Regions from separate parts of the Homo sapiens genome. Here region 2 is linked to region 1. The links come from fine-mapping of genetic effects on gene expression. A gene starts in region 1. The other region holds a variant in brackets. All regions are shown on one strand. Distances are from middle to middle.

The links. PIP is the estimated chance that this variant, and not a neighbour inherited with it, causes the effect.
Region 2: its variant is fine-mapped to the expression of MIR762HG in skeletal muscle (GTEx, PIP above 0.99). The same link has a PIP of 0.9 or more in breast, liver, lung and whole blood.

What each region holds. Positions count from the first base shown.
Region 1 is chr16:30,871,063-30,879,385 of GRCh38, forward strand. It overlaps MIR762HG (MIR762 host gene), which reads left to right and starts at 4,398. Exons shown (of 3, transcript NR_110942.1): 1 at 4,398-4,424; 2 at 4,968-5,056. MIR4519 (microRNA 4519) reads right to left here and starts at 4,261; the gene lies at 4,204-4,261. It also overlaps a transcript of BCL7C not described here. RefSeq lists enhancers at 2,926-3,681, 3,682-4,436, 3,971-4,230, 4,437-5,191, 4,501-4,710 and 1 more and a silencer at 5,111-5,170.
Region 2 is chr16:30,758,069-30,766,391 of GRCh38, forward strand. It overlaps PHKG2 (phosphorylase kinase catalytic subunit gamma 2), which reads left to right. Exons shown (of 10, transcript NM_000294.3): 10 at 1-3,108. It overlaps CFAP119 (cilia and flagella associated protein 119), which reads right to left and starts at 3,994. Exons shown (of 9, transcript NM_001014979.3): 1 at 3,477-3,994; 2 at 3,130-3,161; 3 at 2,538-2,600; 4 at 2,216-2,385; 5 at 1,586-1,656; 6 at 1,274-1,390; 7 at 1,110-1,179; 8 at 944-1,033. The coding sequence starts at 3,680. RNF40 (ring finger protein 40) reads left to right here and starts at 4,254. Exons shown (of 20, transcript NM_014771.4): 1 at 4,254-4,292; 2 at 4,407-4,609; 3 at 5,050-5,217; 4 at 5,350-5,491; 5 at 6,111-6,317; 6 at 6,870-6,991; 7 at 7,113-7,259; 8 at 7,357-7,431; 9 at 8,095-8,214; 10 at 8,311-8,323. The coding sequence starts at 4,478. RefSeq lists enhancers at 855-954, 1,919-3,118, 3,083-3,232, 3,823-4,002, 3,958-4,595 and 4 more and a silencer at 3,317-3,546. The variant G/A (reference allele first, on the strand shown) is at 3,923.

The DNA of each region.
Region 1 (8,323 bases):
TAACTCATCACCAGAGGGGCCAGAACTGGGCAGGGGGAAAGGTGTCCTGAGTGGGAGATCCAGGTCTTGGGGTGCTCCGACTCTGGATCTCTGGGAAGAGGAATCCCCAACTCTGCTTCCCAAGTAGCTAGAAACTGACTTAGGAGGGGGACAGCGTATAGGGAACACTGAAATGCTGCTGTAAACGATGGCTGGAGTTAGCCTCATCTGAACTCTGTGTTTGAGGGTACACACTCTGAAGTCAGATGATACGGATTCAGATCTGCCTCTATTATATACTATGGGACAAGTGACTTCACTTCTCTGTGCCTTGCTTTTCTCATCTGTCAAGTGGAAATAATAAGAGTACTTACCTCACTAAGTTATTGAAATGATTTTGTAAGATTATGCATGTAGTGCTCTGAGAATATTCACCTAGCTCAATGTTAGCTTTTTTTTTTGAGACTGAGTCTCACTCTGTCGCCCAGGCTGGAGTGCAGTGGTACGATCTTGGCTCACTGCAACCTTCACCTCCCGGGTTCCAGTGATTCTCCTGCCTCAGCCTCCTGAGTAGCTGGGACTACAGGCAGGCACCACCACACCTGGCTTATTTTTGCATTTTTAGTAGAGACAGGGTTTCACCATGTTGGCCAGGCTGGTCTTGAACTCCTGACCTCAGGTGATCTGCCTACCTTGGCCTCCCAAAGTGCTGGGATTACAGGTGTGAGCCATCGCACCCGGCCACTATTTTGTTTTATAGGGTCCAGAATTACTCAGATAATTGCTTGGATTTAGGGTTGAGATTCTCACCTAAGTTGAGTGAGACCAGATGGACCCTAATCATCCTGTCTGGAGGTGCTTAGCCTCAAGTTTGGGTCAAGTTGAATTGCACAGCTGTGAGAGAGGTGGACTGAGTTAAATCGGTGTTGAACAAGAGCATGGCAGGACCTGGTTGTTTTGCTTATCTTCTATATGCTATAATTTCAAAAATTAAGGTATAAAATTAAGCTCTCTCTGGAAAAGGATATTCGTGTTATTGGAATGGGTTCTGAATTTAATGGTCAGTTAAAGCCCACAGGGAAAGAATAAGATGAGGAATAGGGTCTGAGGGAGGAGGCAGAGTTCTGATGAAGATGATGGCAAGAGGTGGGAAAGTCCTTGGCCAGGAAGGGGAGAGAGGGAGTCATGGTGAATACCCTGCGGCTGTGCTCCAGGAAAGTGGTCAGTCCTGAGAGCAGGTGGCGGCCTGACATTCCAGAAACATGGGACCCTATATGCAGGTAATCCCAGCCAGCCTAGAGACTCTGGTGCCCACAGGTGGAATAGGGCAGAAGTCATGGAGTGTAAGGGACCCCTGTGGGCTTGGAAAGTGATGCCAGTAGCAACCAAGATGAACTAGAGATCAGACTCTCCTCACCACCAGCACGCACGTTCACACACACCCTCATTCTCCAGGCAGGCAGCACTTCCTGAACTGCGGTGTGCCGTTGAGAGAGGGTGAAAGCCCCAGTGGCAAATGAGATGGGATTTCTGTTTAGAGTCATAAATTGTTTCATAGAAATATTTGAATATTTGTTAGAAGAGGTACCCAAAACAACTCAGGCAGCCTGGTGCCCGCATGTTTTGGGTAGTGGCCAGAGTCCCCTCTCAAGCCTGCTAGTCCATTCCCCACCCCCTATCCTACTTCCAGACTTGGTAAGTAGGTAGTTTTGGCAATCAGACAGACTTGGTTAAGCCTAGCTTCTGTCACTAGCTGTGTGACACTGGACAAGTAATTGTACCTGACTTCTCTGAACCTGTTTCTTCATCGGTAAAATCATGCACTTCTTTACAGGAGTTGTCAGGAAAATGCAATGAAAGAATAAGGTGAGGGTGGTTTTCAAATGATGACCTGGAGAACCGTAAATCAGACAATCCAGTGTTTGCCAAACTTCATTCACATCCCATCTTCCCAACCTCTGACAAATTTGTGGACCACCTCTACTTCTGTTTACTTAATCTTGTTCTTTAAAAATTATCAACTCACGTTTTGATGGAACTAGGTGTATTCAAAAGGAAACTTTAACCACTGCCATAAATGAGAAATTATCATGTACCCAAGAGTGGTAAAAATAGATACAATAAAACCAAAACAATGCTGTTCAGTTCTAGCTGGCTATGATTATAGGCCAGGGCTCTGAGCTCAAGGAGTTGATTTTGTTAAAAACAACAACAAAAAGGTTATCTCAGTCAAAAAAGGCCACATAAAGCCCTAATATGAAATGTCCAAAATAATCAACTCTATAGAGACAGAAAGTAGATTTGCAGTAGTCTAGAGCTGTAGTGGGAGGAAGGCTTGGGAGTTACTGTTAATGGGTATGGTTTCTTTTAGGGGTAATGAAAATGTTCTAAAATTGACTGTGGTGATATTTGCAAAACTGTGAAGATACTAAGAATCATTGAACTGTACACTTTAAATGGGTGAGTTGTATGGTGTGTGAGTCATCTCTCTCAGTAAAGGTGTTATTTTAAAATACGTATATATGGGCCGGGTGTGATGGCTCAGACCTGTAATCCCAGCATTTGGGGAGGCTGGGGCAGGCAGATCACTTTTGAGCTCAGGAGTTCCAGACCAGCCTGGGCAACATAGCAAAACCCTGTCTCTACTAAAAATACAAAAATTACCCAGGCATGGTAGCAGCAGCCTGTAATCCCAGCTACTCGGGAGGCTGAGGCAGGAGAATCGCTTGAACCTGGGAGGCGGAGGTTGCAGTGAGCCGAGATCGAGTCCCTGCACTCCATCCTGGGCCACAGAGCTACACTGTCTCAAAAAAAAAAAAAATTGTACAGATATATATACACACACACACATATAGAAAAATTATATAATTTTTCCTCCTCTCTCTATATACATATATATATAGATATATGTATACACACACACACACACACACAGAGGAAGGTATAGGTGTCAAACCTTTTTTTTTTTTTTTGAGACAGATTCTTGCTCTGTGGCCCAGGCTAGAGTGCAGTGGTGCGATCTTGGCTCACTGCAACCTCTGCCTCCCGGGTTCAAGGGATTCTCCTGCCTCAGCCTCCCGAGTAGCTGGGATTACAGGTGTGTGGCACCACATCCGTCTAATTTTTGTATTTTTAGTAGAGACAGGGTTTCACCATGTTGGCCAGACTGGTCTTGAACTCCTGACCTCAAGTGATCTGCCCGACGTGGCCTCTTAAAGTGCTAGGATTACAGGCGTGAGCCACTGAGCCCAGCCTAAATTCAATTATTAAACTCCTTGAGTTAATTAAAGGGTAGCCAGGTGCGGTGGCTCATGCCTGTAATCCCAGCACTTTCAGAGGCCGAGGCAGGAGGATCGCTTGAGCCCAGGAGTTCCAGACCAGCCTGGACAACATAGCGAGATCCTGACTCTACAAAAAACAGAAAAATTAGCCGGGCGTGGTGGCGCGTGTTTGTAGTCCCAGACACTCCTGAGGTTGAGGTGGGAGGATCACCTGAGCCCTCGGGAGGTCGAAGCTGCAGTGAGCGGAGATCGCACCGCTGCACTCCAGCCTGGGGGACAGTGAGGCGGTCTCAAAACAAAACAAAAACAAAAGGGGAGGGCGGGGGGAAGACTTAAAGACCCCTGAGCCAGGGCCATTATTATTTAACTTGGTCGGGTCTCTGAACCATTCGGAGGAAGCTTGGGTTTCTATCCTTCCCGACTGAGCCACAGACCTGAGTCTTGACTCCGGATAAATCACCCCAGACTGTTTTTCTGTCTGTGACACGGGAACGGCAGCTTCTGCCTCGCGAGGTGGAGAGAGAATGAGAAGCGCCGTGTGTGGCGCGCCTGACACGGTCAGCTCGCGGGTGGAGGCCCGGAGCAGAACGCCCTCGGGCGCCCGCTCTTGCAGCCGCACTGGAGACCGGGAATGGCTCCGGCCACGCCTCTGCCGACTGCGGCAACGCGAGGGACAGCTGGTCTCCGGGGTTGCAGCGTAACGCCCTCCTTCCCGGCCTCATCTTTCCTGACTGCATAACGGGCATACAGTGGGTTCCATGGCGCAAGGGAGCTGAAGAAGCCGCCCGCCCCCAGCTCGCCCGGGATCCTCACGCCCCTATAACGCCCCGAGGGGCCACGATGCTGCCCACAGCCCAGATCGCGAGTGCGGACCCTGCGGGAGGGTCTGGCCTAGATGCGAGTTTCCCGCCGCAGACCAGGCGAGGCCACGCGACATATCCCCTACCCGCTTACTGCAGGCCGCAGACGGAGACAGTGCAGCCCTGCGCACTGCTGAGGTTGCCCGAGGTCTCAGCCTCGGCGGGTCGGGAACACGCGGCGCGCGCCCGCGCCCCAACCGGAAGTCCGCCACCGGCCGCTCTAGCACGCGCAGGGCTGCGTCTGTGGCCTTAACCCTTCCCAAGGCTGCGCCGCCGGCCTTTGTCTCCGCGGAGCGTCACAAAGGTTGGAAGGGTCGCGGGGCCTCTGGGTGCCGAGCTGCAGATGCCTCCACTGCGAGCACAGCCCTGAGACAAGGGCCCAGGCGCCCAGCGGGGCTGGTTTCACTCAGTCCAGCCGCACCTACCCGTGCCCTCACCAGATCTTAAGATACAGACATTAAAACCTCCACCGGGCCGCGGCACAGGACAGCAGTTTTACTTTCTGTTTTTGGCATTGCATTGCCTCCATTTCCTAGAGTGCACGTAATAAATACCGCTGGTGATTCCAAAATATAAAGGTTGAAAATATTTACTTTACAAAAATTTGGTTCCCATACTGCTTTTAAGGCCATCCTCTGCACTTGGTTCCCGCTGCTCCTGATGTGGTTGAAAGATGGATGACCCCAAAGACGAGGAAAAGATTATTGGCTCCATTTTTTAGATGCGGCAGCCAGCTAAGGTCTAGACAGGGGAAGGGACTTGCCCCAAATCACAGTTAGAGCAAATCAGTCTGAATCAGGAATAACTCCATTCCTATCCCGCATCCTGCCCTTTCACTACGCCACAGCTGCCTGGCTGCCTGGAGGAACAAAGGAGGGCCGGGCAAGAACGCCATTACCAACTGCAAATCCACAGGCAAATGCAAGAGGACAGAAAGTAAGTTCTTGGGCTCTGCCCTTGTGCCGTACCCGGAGGGGTTCTGGGGTCACCAGCCAGGTGCATCCCTGCCTTCACAGCCATGCACAGCGACACCCAGTTAACTAATGGGGGGGATTATGCCACTTGCTGGGTATGCCTGTGCCACCAGTGCACTCACTCTGTGCCTGGGGAAATAACCACGGATGAATCTGGGGATCCCCTGGGCCCACTGTGAAATGGACCTGAGCTAAAACTCCATTGATCACAGGACCTCAGGGATCTTTTGGGTCTCGAGAACAGAATTGGATGCTACAGGAGAAATGTAACCAGAAAAGGATTAGGATTTTGCCAGTAGAGAAAGGGAGATGTGCTTGCTTTCATTCATTTATCATTAATGAGCACCTACTGTATGCCAGGCACCACACTAGGCCCTAGGAAGACAGAGATTATGAGACAGATGTGGCCTTATTCTAGCAGGGGAAGTGAGATGAAGGAGGTGAGAAAGAGGAAGTATAGTGACTAACCAGGGACCTGACCTAGTTTGAAGGTCAGGGAACCTTGGAGGAGGTGAAATCAAACCCAAAGCCTGAGATAAGAGAGAGAAGGGGAGGGTGGAGGGAAGGAAAGGGCTTCACAGACAGAGGGAACGGGAGTGCTAACAGCCTGGCCAGCTTCCTTGTGGTAGAAGTTCTATGCATGAGTTGGAAGAAAGCTTGGGGAAAGGGGCAGGAGAGGTGGGCAGGGGCCAAATCCAGCAGGGGCTTTTCTACCATAAGGAACTTGGTGGGAGAACTCCATGGGCAAAAACAGGTGTGGAAGGGACCAAGAAGCCCATGTGGCTGGAGGGCAGGACATGAGATGAAGATGACTAGAGCAGGGAGTGAGGAGGTGGAGAAGGTGAGCAGAGGCCAAGGCTGGGAGGCCTGAAATGCCTGGCCGCAAAACTCAGCCATTAGCCTGGAGGCCATGCAAGTGAACAGCAAGGAGGAGAGTGGAACACCAGGGAGCGGTAGGGATTGCGGGGACTGAAGGGCAGAGACTCCGCCCCCAGGGCAGTCAGTGTTCTGCACCCCCTACCCCCCTACCCCACCAACCTCCGCCCCATGACCACTCCAGGAGGCAAACTCAGTATCTCAGAATATCTGCTTTCAAGGGTAGCTGGAGTCCAGATTTCTTTTTTTATTTTTGGTAGAGACAGGATCTTGCTCTGTCGCGCAGGTTGAAGGGTAGCAACACATAGCTCACTGTAGCCTCAACTCCTAGGCTCAAGCAGTCCTCCTGCCTCAGCCTCCCAAAGTGCTGGGGTTACAGTGTGAGGCACGTCACCCGGCCTGAGTCCAGATTTTTTTTTTTTTTTTGAGACGGAGTCTCGCTCTTTCACCAGGCCCGAGTGCAGTGGCACTATCTCGGCTCACTGCAAGCTCCGCCTCCTGGGTTCAGGCCATTCTCCTGCCTCAGCCTCCCGAGTAGCTGGGACTACAGGCACCCGCCACCGCGCCCAGCTAATTTGTTGTATTTTTAGTAGAGATGGGGTTTCACCGTGTTAGCCAGGATGGTCTCGATCTCCTGACCTCGTGATCCACCCGCCTCGGCCTCCCAAAGTGCTGGGATTACAGGCGTGAGCCACCGCGCCCAGCCTAGTCCAGATTTTTATATGAAATCACTTGATTTTAATGTTGCCAACATGTTCAACACCATGTAAGCCAAACAAATCACATTCACAGGCTCACAGCTCCAAGCTTTGCAGCATGTTAGCATCACCTGAGGAGCTTGTAAAAATCCCAGGGCCCTTGGCCGGGCGCAGTGGCTGATGCCTGTAATCTCAGCACTTTGGGAGGCCAAGGCGGGTGGATCACCTGAGGTCAGGAGTTCGAGACCAGCCTGGACAACATGGTGAAACCCCATCTCTACTAAAAATACAAAAATTAGCCGGGTGTGGTGGCAGGCACCTGTAATCCCAGCTACTTGGGAGGCTGAGGCACGAGAATGGCTTGAACCTGGGAGGCGGAGGTTGCAGTGACCCAAGATCATGCCACTGCACTGCAGCCTGGGCGATAGAGCTAAACTCAAGACTCAAAAAAACAAAACAAAACAAAAAATCCCAGGGCCCAGGTTGCACATGATACCAATGTAAAATGTCTGGGGTGGGGCCGGGTGTGGTGGCTCATGCCTGTAATCCCAGCACTTTGGGAGGCCGAGGGAGACGGATCACAAGGTCAGGAGATTGAGACCATCCTGGCTAACACGGTGAAACCCCGTCTCTACTAAAAATAAAAAAATTTAAAAAAATTAGCTGGGTGTGGTGGCACGCGCCTGTAGTCCCAGCTACTCGGGAGGCTGAGGCAGGAGAATCACTTGAACCCAGGAGGCAGAGGTTGCAATGAGCCGAGATCGTGCCACTGCACTCCAGCCTGGGCGACAGAGCGAGACTCTATTTCAAAAAAAACAAAAATGTCTGGGGTGGCTGGGCGTGGTGGCTCACGCCTGTAATCCTGGCACTCTGGGAGGCCGAGGTGGGTGGATCACGAGGTCAGGAGCTTGAGACCAGCCTGACCAACATGGTGAAACCCAGTCTCTACTAAAAATACAAAAATTAGCTGGGCGTGGTGGCACGCACCTGTAATCCCAGCTACTCAGGAGGCTGAGGCAGAAGAATCACTTGAACCCGGGAGGCAGAGGTTGCAGTGAGCTGAGATCGTGCCACTGCACTCCAGCCTGGGTGACAAAGCGAGACTCCGTCTCAAAAAAAAAAAAAAAAATGTCAAGGGTAGAAGGCAGCCATCAGAATATTTAAATGATTCCCCAGGTGATTCCAGTATGCACACTACCAGAGACTACGTGCTTTCAGTTGCCAGGCTCAGCCATGGGGAGCCATGGGAAGTTTTAGAACAGGAGAGGAGCCCAGTTTAGAGTTTAAGGAAAATCATTCTGTAGGAGGAACAGAATGTAATCTTGTGTGAAAAGGGTCCGGAAGCCCCAAGGGCAGTGGCAGGATCCTGCTAGGGTGATGGTGATCAGCCATCCCAGTTTGCTCAAGACTGGGGTGTCTCCTGGGACATGGAACCTGCAGTGCTAAAACCAAGAAAGTCCTGGGCAAACAGGGATGCTTGGTCATGCTAGATTCTCCTGATGTAGTTCTGTTTTCCCAGATTTTTGGGGAGACTGATGCCACAGACTTCGCATTCTAGAAATTCCTAAGAAAAGGCTGTCCATCTCCCTGTGGTGCATTCACCTGAGTCTCTGAGCCCTGGCAGGGCCCATCTCTTCTCCACCCAGCAGAGTGAT
Region 2 (8,323 bases), 110 kb before region 1:
TCTCTTTTTTTTTTTTTTTTTGAGATGGAGTCTTGCTTTATCCCCCAGGCTGGAGTGCAGTGGCAGCGATCTCAGCTCACTGCAAGCTCTGCCTCCCAGGTTCATGCCATTCTCCTGCCTCAGCCTCCCAGTAGCTGGGACTACAGGCACCCGCCACCACGCCCGGCTAACTTTTTGTATTTTTAGTAGAGACGGGGTTTCACAGTGTTAGCCAGGATGGACTCGATCTCCTGACCTCGTGATCCGCCTGCCTCAGCCTCCCAAAGTGCTGGGATTACAGTTGTGAGCCACTGCACCTGGCCTGTTCTTTGTTTTTTTTTAACTCTTAAGTTCTGGGATACGAGCAGAACATGCAGGTTTGCTACGTAGGTATACATGGGCCATGGTGGTTTGCTTTACCCATCAACCCATCATATAGGTTTTAAGCCACCGTCATTGGCTTTCTAATGATCATTTCTCTGGAGCCACTTCAGCTGTGCTTTTTGTTTGTTTGTTTGTTTGTTTTGAGACAGAGTCTTGCTCTGTTGCCCAGGCTGGAGTGCAGTGGCCAGATCTTGGCTCACTGCAGTCTCCACCTCCTGGGTTCATGCAGTTCTCCTGCCTCAGCCTCCTGAGTAGCTGGGACTACAAGCGCGCACCACCATGCCTGGCTATTTTTTGTATTTTAGTAGATAGGGGGTTTCACGGTGTTGCCCAGGCTGGTCGCGAACTCCTGAGCTCAGGCAATCCGCCTGCCTCAGATTGTGCTGGGATTACAGGTGTGAGCCACCACGCCTGGCCTGCAGCTGTGCTTTTATCTGTCATCTTGGACTTCTGCATAAGGGATCATTTAGAGAAAGGACTCTGACTAAAAACAAAAAGTCTGAAGTCCTGATGTCATCCAAACCCTTCATTCTACACCTGCTCAGAGGGACAGGGCAGCCTGCCCTCTCCAGATCCTCACTTGGCTCTGGCTCTGGTGGGGCCACTGTCTCTAGTTCCTCTTTCTGCGGGGTAACTGCCTGCTCCTCCATCTCCTTGCTTTCTTCTTTCTCTGCAAACCAGAAGCAGGAAGAGACTGTGGCCCCAGGCCTGGCCCAGCCCAGCCCTGCCCTGGCACTCTCCCTTACCCGTCTCACTCTCTGGCCACAGTTTGGGTGGCTGTAGCCCCATGTAAGTCAAAGACAGATCCAGCCGCACCTGGGAAGCAAGGCAGAGGGAGGCTGAAAGGAGTGCACCTGTGCTGAGGGGAGGGGCGGTTGAGGGTGGCTCCTCATGGTCCACCACCCCCTACCTGGGGTGTGAAGACGTATTTATAGAGCTTGAAGTGGCGGAAGTAAGTGTTGACCACGTAGTCTTCCAAGGCCAGCAGCTGTTCCTCTTTGAAGAGGTCGATGCTGAAAGGAGGCCGCTGTGGTGGTGACTCGGAATTAGAACCCTGACTACCTTCCGGAGCCCTGGCTTTGCCTCCAAAAGCCCAGCAACAGGAGCAAGGAGAGCCCACTGGGGTCTTCACAAGAAGATAAGGGTGATGAATGTGAGAGAGACTGGGTGAGACCTTGTCTGGGGATGGGTAAAGTTTCCAGAATGTTCCAGGGGAACTGACCCTGACTCCATGGCAAAAAAGGACACTGGTGAAGTAGCGGTAGCACTCCTCCACGTTGCCCAAGGGGGTTGCTGGTAGGGAAAGCAAGATGCAGCAGTGAGGCCCTCTCTGGTATCCATTCATTCACTTCACTCAACAGCTGTTTATGACCATGAGCTTCAGAAGCAGACAGATCTGGGTTTCAGCACTGGCTTGTTTCCTTAACTCATGTAACAAATACTGAATACCCACTATATGCCCACTGTATGGTTTTCGGCACTGAACAAGACAGACAAGGTCCTGCCCTTACGAAGCTTATATTCTAGGGGAATAAACCAAGAAATAGATCATTTCAGCTATTAAACATTCTGAAGCAAGAGCTATTAAACATTCTAAAGCAGGTGTTATTGTGCACTATGCATATATTTGCATATATTATTTCTCAGAACAGTCCTGTAAAATGTGTGCTGTATCCTTAATTTCTAGATAAGGAAGCAGTGGATTGGAAAGCTGATGGCTTGTGTATGATGATGCTACTAATAATGACATATTCCAGGCAGAAATCCCCTGCTTCTGCTTCCCATGGTCACTTGTGCCAGGCCCGGTTCCTCTTCTCCCTGGGGCTCAAACCTGGTAGCTGCCCCCTCTCACCAATACAAGCCTTGTGAAGATCCTGGAGCAGGGCACAAGCCGCTGACGTCTGCTCCAGTGAGAAGCCCTGCTGGCGGCAGAAAATGAGCGCGTGGCAGAAGAGGTCCAGGGTGATGGCGTCCCTCAGGCTCTGCTCAGGACACCCTAGCTCCAGCAGCTCAGCCAGCACCCTTGGGAGGGAGAGAGGAGTGAGTGACAACTGGGCCTCCTTTCATCACCCTACACCCACCACATGCTTTGGAGTCAGCCATTCCTCATGTTTTCCCAACCTGACCCCTCAGCCTTTGCCAAGAGCTCTTCCCACGCCCCCCTCAGTCCCTACTCCCTCATCTCAGCATTGGTGGTCTTCTCCAGCTGGTGCATGGAATGGACGTCCAGGTACTTCCTGTTATAGTAAAAGAAAAAGAGTATTGGTGGCCGTTACCTATCATGACAAGGCTGTGACAGCTAGTGCGTGAGACTGGGAGTTGGCCACCGGCGTGAAGCTGGGCTCTTTTGCCAGCTTGCTGTGTGACTATGCAAATCGTTAACTCTCTGGGCCTAAATGAACTCTTATGAGCCTCTCCATTTCTAAAGCCTAGGGTTAGGAATCTTGAATTCTTTTTTCTGCTCTGCCACTACCTTGTATGACCTTGGTCAAGTACTCCCTGTGGCCCTCAGTGTCCCCCTCTGTACAATACTCCTTAGCGGCCATGAGACTCCATTTACATTCTGTCTTTGGCTCTTTTTTTCTCACACTGCCTCCTCTTTGGACTGGAGAGGCTGGAAAGCCAACTTCCAGTCACCTGGAGTAATTGCATCTCCAGGCCTCAGTCTCATCTGTAAAATGGGGATGCCCTGGCCACAGACAGGACTGTTGGGGAGACAATAAAGAACGCAAATATTCAGTGTAATTTTTGTCTCTTCACACTCACCACATGCAGATCCGGGGTCGGGGCAGCGGCGGCTGCGGAAAGAAAGCGAATTGGGGAAGGCAGCTGCGGTGTCCTGGCCCGTAGCGAATCTCCAGCAGGCCGGAGAAGCCGCTGTAACTTGCCATCTCATCTCAAGGACTAAGGAGAGGCGCGGGCGAGGGAGGGCTTCAGCAGGCCCTAGGTGCTCTACGCGAGCACAGTAACCACCGGGGTCACACACCCCTGCCTCTCCTCGCCCAAGCAGCCCGGGAGACGTCCCGAACGTTAGTAAGCATAATGACAGGTGGCGCCTGCGGGGGAGCCGGTTTATAAATATTCACGAGCAGACCAGACTGTCCCGCCCTCACCGGAAACAAGTTGGCTCCGGGGTCTTCATCCGCTTTCGCCGCCGCCGCCGTCGTCCACTGAGTCCGCACACTCGCACGCGTCCGCGCGGCCGACCCATGCACTGAGCTGCGATCCTTCCCCGCTTCCCGCCGCAGCTCGGAGAGATGTTCAAGCTCCGACTGCACCCTCATTCCCAAAAAGTGGCTGGTCTTGCGGTTGAGCATCTCGCCGCTCTTCCGTGCCGCGAGGCGCCCCGGGCTCCCGCCGCCTAGGTTCCAGGACAGCCAGCGCTCGGTCGGCGGCTACCAAGGCCGGGCCCGTTCGCCTCGCTCCGGCCAATCTACGCGCGGAGAGGCGCGGCGGGGCGAATCCGTGGGGGCGTCTCCCTCCGTCTCAACGGCGACGGTTGCCAAGGGGGCTTGTGAGGGAAGGAAGGCGGAAAGCGCAGGCTCACGCCAGTGGGAGC[G/A]AAGAGAACGCGCAGATACGTGAGAAGTTGCGAGTGCCCACCTGGGCGCCCTCTCTTCCAGGTTGCTAATACGAGGGCCGGTGCTGTCCTCCAGGCTGGGAAGTGGGAGCGCGGTGTCAGTTACTATGGGAACTGCCTCTTGGCCAATCACCGAGAGAAAGAGGAGGTGTTTGGGAAGAAGCCAGAGGACCCGAGTGGCGGGACCAAGCGTAACCAATAGAAGCAGAAGATAAAGAAGTTTCCTCACATCCGGGGCTGCCTTTGGCGCCTGCGCCCTGCGCACCGTTGGGGGGGGGGCAGTGGCGTCCAGTGACGCCCAGTGACGTCCGGTGAAATCCAAGATGGCGGCGCTAGGCTGACCCTCCTGCTGGTGAGGGCTCTGGCGCCGGGGGGGACGGGATCCAGCAGGTGTGTGCAGGGTGGAGGGTGTTTGGGGCTGTGGAACACCAGCCGTTCCCACATCTCTGCTCTGTGTCTTCTGCAGGTGACGGAAGTACCGCCTCCTCCCGTTTGACGCCCCTCAGGGGACCCTGCATCGCTCCAGCCGCCGCGGCCATGTCTGGGCCAGGCAACAAACGCGCCGCCGGCGACGGGGGCTCAGGGCCCCCGGAAAAGAAGCTGAGTCGTGAGGAGAAGACCACCACGACTCTTATCGAGCCCATTCGTCTTGGAGGCATCTCTTCCACGGTTCGTGGGCTCTTGCCTTAACCCTCAGAACTTCCCAGAGCCCTCCCTCTGTTCTCTGGCCAAACTGTGCGGAATCTTACACCCACTTCCCCAAGTTTAGCAAGGTCCGCGTTACAGGACCTTGAAAGAAAGGTTAGAAAGAAGCTCAGAACACGACGCCTGTCTTCCCTTTACAGATAGGAAAACAGGTTTCCAGGGGGCGTGTGACTTGTCAAAGACTAAGGATTTACAAGGGGACAGGCAGAAACAACGTGAGCCTCCTCACAACAAAGACACTTTCGCTGTGTGTTGTCTGAGCCTCCTTAGATTCTGTTAGCGGTTAGTGTGGGAATACCTCCATCTCCCATGCATTGCAGATGCTCTGCTCCTCTTTCTCTCTCTGTGATTGGTTTGTGGGCCCTGCTTGACGCTCTCGTCGGCCCCTTTGTTTCCTTTGGTAGGAGGAGATGGACCTGAAGGTACTACAGTTCAAGAACAAGAAACTGGCAGAGCGGCTGGAACAACGGCAGGCTTGTGAAGATGAACTCCGAGAACGAATTGAGAAGTTGGAGAAGCGGCAGGCCACAGATGATGCCACACTCCTCATCGTCAATCGCTACTGGGCCCAGGTGGATACCTTCTGCTTTCAAAGACCAGGCCTTGATTCAGCTGCCAATCCCCAGATTCCCCTGCTAGGAAAGGAGTATCATGTTGGAAAGCACTAAGGGATTCATAACATTTTTGATGTTTTCTCCTTCCAGCTGGATGAAACTGTGGAAGCCCTTCTCCGATGCCATGAGAGCCAGGGGGAGCTGTCTTCAGCGCCTGAGGCACCTGGGACCCAGGAGGGGCCAACATGTGATGGGACTCCTCTCCCAGAGCCGGGGACATCAGAGCTGAGAGGTAGGACCAGAGTGCTGGGATCTGGGGAGCTTAAGTTCTGGGAGAAGTCCTGGGGAGGAGGGGACTTTGGTGTTGGGCCCCTGAATTGCCTATCTTACTACTTCTCACGAAATGGATTTCATGTTTGGGCAGTAAAGTGCAGTGCACAAAAACACAGGCTTTAGACTCTGACTAACTTGGTTTATAGAGCAATTCATGTTTTGACACCCATTTGTTTCAAAACAGTATTATGGTTGAGTATTAAATATGTATTTGACGCTTCCTAGAAATGAGTGTTGCACTTGCTATAAGGGAGGAAATTATAAACATAGTAAGCAGAAAGTACTGGGGCTCCTGAAACGGAATGATTGTGTGTGCATGCATGTGCGTGTGATTCTAATTATATTGGTAAAGTACAGGAAGCTTCCCTGAGGATGTGATACGCAACTCTGTAGCTTTGAGGAAATTACTTTACCTCCCTGAATTTCATTTGTCTCACTTTCAGGATGGAGATAATAGTGCACTATAGGTTGTGTTGATTAAGTGAACCATGAGTATTGAAGGGCTCAGTCTGGAACTTGGTACAGAGTGGTAGTAACTGCTGCTCTTATCCTCATGAGGGTCTGTCCATTCCTTCCAGACCCCTTGCTGATGCAGCTGCGGCCCCCTCTCAGTGAGCCGGCCTTGGCTTTTGTGGTGGCACTGGGTGCCAGCAGCAGTGAGGAGGTGGAGCTGGAGCTGCAAGGCCGAATGGAGTTCTCCAAGGCAGCTGTGTCTCGTGTGGTAGAGGCCTCAGACCGCCTACAGCGCCGGGTGGAGGAACTCTGTCAGCGAGTGTACAGCCGAGGTGGGTTCTTTGTGCCCATACTGAAGGGGTGTCCATCCCCACCTGCATCTTGATGGCACCCCTTCCTGATTCCCCTAATGCCCGAGTCCAAGGGCGGCCAGAATTTCCCAAGGAATAAATCAGCCATGTTCTTGGAAGAGGTAGGTTAGGCTGTAGATGGGGGTTCCAACTTTGATTCCGGGATTGAATGCTAGAGAGATGGGTTGGAGGAGTTGTTGATGCCGGTAGAGGCTCCTGGCCAGAGGCCCCTCTGGAGCACTTGGTGTGGGTTGCGGATCCACAAGGCATAGCTTCAAGGGCTCAGGCCTTGTAGGTTGACAGGCTTCTCCCACCTTAGTTCTGCCACCCTCACCTGGACATGCTGGGAAAGTGGCTCCCCTCTCTGAGCTGGTTTCCTTCTCTGTGCAGTGGGGATAAAGACTCCTGGCTTTGTCATGAGAAATGGGCAAGACAGCTGGTGGATCACACTGGGTATATAGCAGACTCCAGAATGAGTTAGTTGTTTGCCCCATTGCCCTGAGCTGGGCTCTTACCTGGGCCCTGCCTTCCCAGGGGACAGTGAGCCCCTCAGTGAGGCGGCTCAGGCACACACCCGAGAGCTGGGCCGTGAGAACCGGCGACTGCAGGACTTGGCCACTCAGCTGCAGGAGAAACACCACCGCATCTCATTGGAGGTGAGGAGCCGGGGGCTTTGGGGGTGTGATTAGAATCAGGCAGGATTTGGGTTAGATGGGCACTCAGGGACCTCAGGAACCAAGTCCCCCATCCAAGCATCTGCTCCCTCATTGTTCCCAGTACTCCGAGCTCCAGGATAAAGTGACATCGGCAGAGACCAAGGTGCTGGAGATGGAGACAACAGTGGAGGACTTGCAGTGGGACATCGAGAAGCTGCGGAAGCGAGAGCAAAAGCTCAATAAGCACCTGGCAGAGGCCTTAGAGCAGGTGGGGCAGGGGTGCTGGGGCAGGTGAGGCAAGGCTGGGCCCTTGGGCCTTAGCTCCTCCCCTCTACATCCATTGCCTGTCTGTTTTCTCTCCACAGCTTAACTCTGGCTACTATGTATCTGGGAGCTCCTCAGGCTTCCAGGGGGGCCAGATCACACTCAGCATGCAGAAGGTGAGCGGCGTTTTCCTCCCACCCCTTCTCACAACCTCTTCTCTGTTGCACTCTTGAAATTCCCCTCAGGACAAAGGACAAACATCCATCTCTGAGGCCCTTCCTGGTCACTCCTGCTGCTCTTTTTTTCATGCATTCATATACTTGTTGAGTAGATTTTTGAACACTTAGTGCTAGGCACTAGGCATATTGGCGAGAACAAAATAGAGGTCAAAACTTTCATGGACCAGACAAGAAATAAATAAAAGAATATATCTTTAGGTTCTACTTGTGGTAACAGACAAGAAATCAGTAAAATAGCATATCAGTGTGTTATGAGTACCACAAAGATAAAGCACAGAAGAGAGAGCTAAGAGTGAGTTGGAGTCAGTTGGCATCTGGTGGTCACTGTGCCCTTTTTCCCTTTATTAGCACTTTAGGCCTTTCTGGAATGCCTTCCGTGACTCCCCATCAGTTAAGAGCCTTAGTTCCCAGCACCGACCATGCAGTATTGAATTTTCTCCCATTTTTCTGGGAGCCCTTAGGAAAGTACTTGGTTTGGGGTGTCAGAATCGATCATTGCCCTGCACGGGGTGCTTGGGGTGGAGTGTATGCTGGGGATGTAAGGGAGGCCTGCTGCCACGTCTGGCCCTGCCTCCCATGGCCCTGCCTCCCACTCCTTAGTTTGAGATGCTGAATGCAGAGTTAGAGGAAAACCAGGAACTGGCCAACAGCCGTATGGCAGAGCTGGAGAAACTGCAGGCCGAACTTCAGGGGGCTGTGCGGACCAATGAGCGCCTCAAGGTGGGCTGCTGTAGGGGCTGAGAGGTCCTGGGCCTGTAAGGGAGGGACTGAGCCCTGAATCCTGTTGCTGATCCCATTTGGGCATCCCTGCCCCAGGTGGCCCTGCGGA